2 linked regions of the Homo sapiens genome follow. The protein of the gene in region 1 interacts with the protein of each later gene in a biochemical or structural test. Each region holds a gene or a part of one and is shown in the gene's direction. Other genes may lie near its edges.

Region 1 (3,824 bases):
TTTTATAATGTTTTCTTAAATGAATTAAAATTTAGCTGACACCGTCACTTGGGTAAATGCAGTAAAGTCGTGGTTTTTCTTAGTTCTTTGAGGAGAGAAACTGACCTGCAGCTTATTGTCATAAATCCAAAGTTGTTAGTATAGTGTTTAACAAATAGCAGGGGCTCAATTTTCTTTGTTGAACAAATAAAATGAATGGGTAAAGAATATCCATTGAATTAATATATTTAGTGAAACATTTTTAAAGATTTATCAAACATTATAATTAATGAAATGTATAACTTTATCTCAGGAGAAAAGAGAAAAATGAATTTCAAGGTTCTTTGAACTCCATTTACCTGCTCAGATATAATTCCATTACCTGTACACTTTTGAACTGGCACTAGATACTTAATAATGTATATGTTAGTAGTCTTTGATTTATGAAATATTAACAATTTTCTTCTTATAGCTCACTTTATGAAGATGTATGTTAACATATTTTTTGTTTTTCCTACACTAGATAGAAGTGTGTTTGATTCTTTGTGACTTACGTTTTCTAGTGAAATAGTAATAAAAAAGATATATGTAAATTAAATCCTATGCTGAATGCTTGAGTACCTAGTTGTTAAAAATAAATGACCCCTGAAGTGGAACTTTTTATAAAATTAAGAATCTTGTGTTTTAAGTTTATCACATTCAGCTTATAATTTTGAGTCTTTGTGAATTGGTAGTTCTAACTTACTACACAATTGATTACATTTTACAACTTGTAAAATGGTTTGGAACTTGAGTCTTATTTTCTCAGAAACAGTATACTTAGTGGTTAGAGTCACAGACAGCCCACTAAAGCCTATTTAAATAATAAAATACCTGAATTATAGGATTATGTTAATACTAAAGAAATTATAAAATTATGTTAATAATTAGCATAAGTATATTAAAATACCTATAATAATTTGTATGACAGTCTTTCTATGGGAAAAATAAGTTTCAGATGTACCCTGAAATGCTAGGATCTGTAACTCTTGTGTTAGACATGACAACATTATTAGGAACTTGTTCTCTTTCACCCAGTGGACTTGAAGAGGAGGCTGTTTCTCAGTTCAGTGAGTGGCATAGGCTTACATTATCTGGGACAAGAAGTTAGGGCATGACAAAAATTAGAAGGAAATGCAGTCTTCTGCGTGACTTTACTTCTCAAGATGTTTGATTATAAAATGAAAAGGTAGAAGTAGATGACTTCGGAGATCTGTTTTAGCTACAAATAAAATTCTAAGATACTTCGAAGCTTGGTGTAACCCCCTTTTTTTCCTGAGAGTTCATTTTCCCTAAAGTTACCGCTTACGTCCCTCTTATGAGGACATTTCTTCTTTCTGGACCTACCTCTGAAAAAGAAAGTAGTCTTGATCCTTTCACACGTGCCTGTTCTCAGAAGCAAGATTTTTTAGTCTCTTAAAGGCGTTATTTTTGTGATGGGTTTTTTGTTTGTTTTAATTTTTAAAAATAAACTCCCAGCACTGTCAAGAAACAGGATTTTTCTTTTGGATTGTTTCCTTTGTTTCCTTATTTTGAGCTATTGGTAAAGTCAGGGTAGATTTTATTCATACTTTGAAGAAAGATCATATCCAGTCAGTCTCCATAGAATTTTTTTAAGGAAAAAATTTTGGAATGAGGTCATGAAGTGGGAGTATGAAGATATAAAGATGGATTATTGCCCCATAAAATACGGGGCATCTTGTATTTGTAGCAGCCTTACCTGGGGTGCTATGGAGCTTTGGTATGGATGTGATGGAGCTGAAGGCAGATTGAGAAAGTGAATCTGTGAACTCCTTGAGGACAGTTTTGTTGTAAGCGTTTGGTTGTTTTGTTTTGCTTTGCTTCATTTTTGTGTTCCCAGTGCCTGTTTTTGGTTTAAGCTAAATGGATTTTGAGTGTATGCAATTACTACAGAATAAAAGAGAAGTCATTCTGTTCCATGTGGAAAGATCAGGGTGCTGTGAGGGAAGAGGTCATGAAACAGCTATTTTTGTCATATGCATTGGAGTATTTAATAATTATTTGGAGATCAGTGATATTCAAAAATAATGTGTAACATGGTCCAAAAGGAAAAGAAGTGACATTGCTTGCTTGCTAGATGTACAAGATTCTGTATAGATGCTGTCACATTTATTATTTATCTTGTTTAATTGCTATCATAGCCCTATAAGGATTTAATTGAAGAAAAAGGTTAACTGAATTGAACAAGTTGTTTGTTCTGCCTAGCGGAAGCCCAGATTGTTTCAGAACTGCTTTATCTCCCCTTTTACTGATAAGTTTCTGTTGGAGCAGTCATTTTAATAACTTGATAATAACAATTCTGCCTGCCTGCTACTGTCCCCTCATTTGTAATTGGTTCATTTAGTGGGTCCCCCTTGTTAAACCAGTGATTCATAGTTCATAATCAGCACATAATTATTGAGGGCCAAGTAGGTGCTAAAAAGGACAGGTCTCTATTCTCTTGGAGTTAACAGTATAGTAAAAAACAGGTGTTGAACAAATACATTTGTACTTAGAAATTTTGGTGAATGCTGTAAAGGAAAAGAAGAGGGAACTGGATTTACACTGGGAGTCAGGGGAGGCTTCTTAGAGGCAAGATTAGTGGAAGTTAGCTAGGTGGAAAAGGAAGAGAATTCAAAGAACAGGTGAAACAGTTAAAGCTTAGTGTAAGAGGGATTGTGACTTGATATGAGGTTGCAGAGGTAAACAGAAGCCAGACTATGCAGAGGGCCTACGTGAGGTTTGGTTTAACGAGGTTAAGGATTTTAAGTCTATTGGGGAAGGCCATGAAGAGTTTTAATCGGGTTAATTACTGGATCAGATCTGTCTTTTGTAAAGATCACTTTGGCTTGGAAGGGGCCAGAGATACCAATCACAATTCTGTTCATTTCTGTGGTTTATTGGCCTGGTTTTAGACACTTTTTTACTAAGCCAAGTCACTCAGAACTTTTCCTGGGTCCTCCATGCCCAGAGGTTGAATAATTTGTTTTCTCTTCAGTTGCTGAAGCTGTGAGATACAAAACTCTGGAACTGTTAATGGCCTTGTTTCTTGCCCTGTGGGCTAGATAAGCCAGGGCTTCTAGAACAAAGAGTGCAAAGAAGCAGATGCACAGAGTCCTGACTGTATTTGAGTTCCTTTGTCCATGGTCCTGAGATTGGGTTCCAGAGACATCCTAGTTACCTTTGTCATAAGTCCTCCTTTTTGCGTAAACTGTTAGAATTGTATTTGTGGTACTTGTCAACCAGCAAACTGAGTCCTCTCATAGATCAAGTAATTTGCTCAAGGTCACATGGCTAATAGAAATGGAGGTGGAATTTGAGCACAGATATGTGTGATTTCAAAGTCCCATTTTTTTCCTACTCCCTTATGCTGCAAAGGTACCATTTCTTAAACTAAAGGTCCTAAAGAAATTCTAAGTAGGTGGGTTTTGGGTGTGATGACATCTGTTGGATGATGATGACAGCAAAGTTTTTTTGTTTTTTTGTTTTTTTAATTTGGTGTGCTTGATAGTAGTTAGTCCAGCATGTAGCCATTCTTTATTCCTAACCTAGCCAGGTCTACTCCAATAAAGTTACATTGACTAACTTATTTGAAAAGAAGAAAAGCTTATGTGTCAGGGCATGGAATAACTTGTTTGATTCCTTTACCAAAAAAGTCAAGTGTGTTATGTTTTCACCTTATGCTACAAAAGTAAGTTTGTTTTCTAGTTGTTTTAATAGGGACATCTTGCTAAATTTGTTAAATTTGCTAAATTTTTATAACATGCATGTGCTACAGGTTATGCCAGAGAATTGTGAAAGGGTTA
Region 2 (3,824 bases), on another chromosome or scaffold:
GGCTCATGCCTGTAATTCTAGCACTTTGGGAGGCCGAGGCGGGTGGATTACCTGAGGCCAGGAGTTCGAGGCCAGCCTGGTCAACATGGTGAAACCCCGTATCTACCAAAAGTACAATAATCAGCTGGGCTTGGTGGCAGGTGCCTGTAATCCCAGCCACTCAGGAGGCTAAGGCAGGAGAATTGCTTGAACCCAAGAGGCAGAGGTTGCAGTGAGCCGAGATCATGCCACTGCACTCCAGCCTGGGCGACAAGAGCGAAACTCCATCTCAAAAACAAGGAGGAGGAGGAGGAGGGAGGAGGAGGAGGGAGGAGAAACGTAAAATGGCTTGCCTAGCCAAGGAAAAAGAAAAACAGCCATCAAACCAAGGCAGTAAGTGCCAGGATATAGGAGACAGATGAAGCTTGAGAGACCCTTATCCGGTCCATCTGCGCTGCCTAAAGAAGAATTTAGCAATTTAGTGCACCAACTTTTACAAGAAGTGTCCAAGGAATTACATTATTTGAAACCAGAGGCGAACATAATTATGATAGCCATTTGTGCGTGTGGTTAAACACACACCATGTTAAAAATCATGCCACTGATAGAACTCCCACACACAAATAGTGCTTAATCCTTTTTTTCATTAATGATTTGTAAATTGTTGAAAAATTGTATACTCGATGAAGGACTCTGGCAGTGCTGTTTTTAAATAAATGATGTGGCACTGACCATGATCTTCTGTAAGATGATAAAACTGTTGGAACAGCGACAGCCTGCCACAGATGATGTCTTCATGTCGCACCTGTGTTGCGCGGGTTGCTGGTCCCTGAGAAGCTTTGCTCTTAGGATTTTCCACTCACCCTGTCACCTGTCAGCCTCGCCTTGATCCCTCACCCCCGACTCTGGTGTGGCAGCCTCAGTGACTGAGCTCCTCCGCCCCCCTCCTCAGCAGGGCTGACTTTCCCTTTAGCTTGGGAGGCTCAGCATTTCTGTTTAGCCTGCCGCGATGGCAGCGCAGCATTTATGCCGGAGGGGCAGTGAGAGCGTCAGGCAACCAGCTAACACTGCTTATTTTGTCTGCCTATGGGCTTCATGTGAGTTGCCTGCCTTCTTTTCCAAACCCCTCGGGGCTTGCTGTCTTCCGAGGCCTTGTAAATGGGAAGTATTCAAGCCCATGTGTATGAACTGATATCGTTGTCACCCCCCTTTCATGACTCGCTTCTATTTTCAGGGACCTCAAGAAGAACCAAATTCTTTGGTACTTTCCCCGGAAACTACGTCAAGAGGCTGTGAATTGCGCTCCCTCCTTCTGTAGAGGCCGCCTGCCAGCCATGCACCTGCGTCAACGCGCCTGAAACACCCCGCGGGCCTCCCGTTGTCATGCCTTACGGTTTCCAATGCGCCGTCACCATCTCCACCTGCCACCAAACCACCAGCAGAGTAGCCGCCGCTGCTGTGAGCCTGGGGACGACATGGCAGGCTGGTCCCCCTCCGTGAAAGTGTGGATTCCTACTTCCTGCTCTAAGCTTTGACACGTCAAAATGTGGGATCAGAAAGAAAAAAATCATGATATTTAAAAATGGTCAAATATTTGAGGCAAAAAAAAAAAAAAAAAGTGTCTCCAGGAGGCTGTCCAGCCTCGTGGCTCCATTTCAACATCTCCCCCCAGGCGATGTTCTCCCCCAAGACGACCAGAAAATTGTTTATTGGGGAATGCTGTGGTTTGCATTTTCATATTCTTCGCTTGGCAGTGTGTATTCTTTTCACAAGTTTGCCTAGTGTCTTGGTTTACACAATATGACAACTGTAACTGTACTTTAGCTATTGTTTGCCTGCACATACATGTTGTAATATGCACAGTGATTACAACCTTTAAAGCAAGAGGAGGCGAGTTAATTTGGATGAGTGTGATTTTGCTGATTGAATGTGAGTTTTCAAATAGGAGTCTTTTTCTGCAATTTGTTTGCATTTTTTAGAAGTGCAAACAGTAAGTAAATAAAAGCCTTCGGTAATAATCATGACAATACAAGAGGCTGAGCTAGGCTACAGGGGAAAACTATTGTGTTGTAAAGTTGCATCGCTATTTTATATTAAAATGTAATGATCAGCATCATGAACAATGAGCTCTTAGTGTTTTATTTATCTGAAAAAATGTAAGTAAAAGCAGTGTTAGTGAGAGGTGCAAAGAATTATTCTAACAGACACCTGAAAGTATCTGTAAGCAATACTAGTAGGTAAGATTTCACTGTGTGTACACATACACATTTGAGATTGTATGAGAACATATAATCCATATGATATGTTGTACATTTTATGGAAATGTAATAGAATCTCACACATTATTTTATAGAAATAGAGTACAGAAGCATCACAAGTATTAAAGTTGGTTTTAGCAAGGATTAGGATTACTACAATTATTTTTACTATAATAATTATTTTTCTTCTATGGAACTCAGAATCCTGGCTACATTTGAGGACAGGAATATGTTGAGCCTGATTTTCCTGGTGTGTGTAAAATATTTCCTAGGAATAAATTAGGCACTTTTTAGAAGCAATGTTAAATCATTCAGGTTTTATTTTCTGCCCTGAAGCAGAAATTTAAAAAATGATATTGGGACCTGGAAGGTTTAATATGGTTCACAGTGCCTGAATTACACCTGCTCCGAAAACTAGCTTTGTATTTCTTATGACTTTGCATAAGAACTGTTCATCTTTGGATCTTGAGCACCTTACAGATAAAACTTTTTATGGCATCTCTTTCATGGACAGTGATATTGATCTTTTCACAATGTACGTAGCCTCTAGAATTTTGTACATATGTTTGCTCTTTTTTTGTACAGACTAGTTGTTGAGAAAACAGGGGCGTTTCCTAATTTGGTCTTTATCCTGCGACAACACTTTCAGCAGACTAGCCTCTCCTTATCTCACAGATCACAAGCACCCCTAGATAGTGTGATTCTGTCAGATAGCATTTATGCAAAAATCTATGAAGTTAAAAGATCGTAGAAGCCAAATGAAATGTACATATCTACTGACTGATGACAAGGGAATTTCATTAGGAAGAAGGTAAAGAAACATCGTTGAGTAGCCTACCTTGATTTCTGTCAAGTTCATAACCAGCTTCATATTTTAAAGGCTTCAGGTTTGAAATTAAGTCAACTGCATGCAGCTTTGCTGATAAATGAATAATTCTCTTTGATGCCATTTATGAGAAAAGACTTCAATATCTGTTGCCTGTCATATTTAAGAAAAATTACTGTTTCTACTCTCTGTATCTGATTTTAAAAGAAAAAACTATTCATACCTGGCTTCCAGGTAATTGACTTTGAATTCTTACAAGCAAAGGTCATTGTGTTTTTCTTGAATAGACATCTAATAAATTTTGCTTGGAAGTATACTTCAGTTTTTCTTCTTGACATTTATCTTTATAAAAATTGTGTATTTTATTCCAACTTGTTAAACTAAGAGAAAATGCATTTTGTTGTGTGTTCTTTTAACACAAACATGGAGAAAAGCTGTGTCAGCATCAGCTCAGAGAAGAAATATTTTTAAACCCACCACCAAAGCTCATTTGCTAAACGTTCTTTGGCTAAAAATTGCCCTTCAGTTAAAACAATACATTGTAAAATATTTCTGCCTCAAAACAGCTAGTTTTCCAAGGAGGGGTTAGTTACAAGGAGTTGTAAGCACTTTCCCAGTTCAACACTCTGAAATTTTAAAATCTTTGCCCTAAGCAGCTTCAGCACCATTGGCTCGGCAGCTTCTGCAAATGTCCACAGGCTTTCAGTGAATTTCAAATGATGGGTGGCGGTGGGGTCCCCGCTTTCTGCCACACAAATGGG

The links.
Region 2: the proteins of WASF1 (region 1) and SORBS2 form a complex in vitro, tested with the Homo sapiens proteins (one study listed by BioGRID).

The regions. Positions count from the first base shown.
Region 1 is NC_000006.12:110,172,998-110,176,821, reverse strand, and holds part of WASF1 (actin-binding protein WASF1), read left to right. Parts: intron 1-3,824.
Region 2 is NC_000004.12:185,585,078-185,588,901, reverse strand, and holds the end of SORBS2 (sorbin and SH3 domain-containing protein 2), read left to right. Parts: intron 1-711; exon of another isoform or gene 712-977; intron 978-1,213; coding exon 1,214-1,275; 3' UTR 1,276-3,379; downstream 3,380-3,824. UniProt on the Homo sapiens protein: Adapter protein that plays a role in the assembling of signaling complexes, being a link between ABL kinases and actin cytoskeleton. Can form complex with ABL1 and CBL, thus promoting ubiquitination and degradation of ABL1.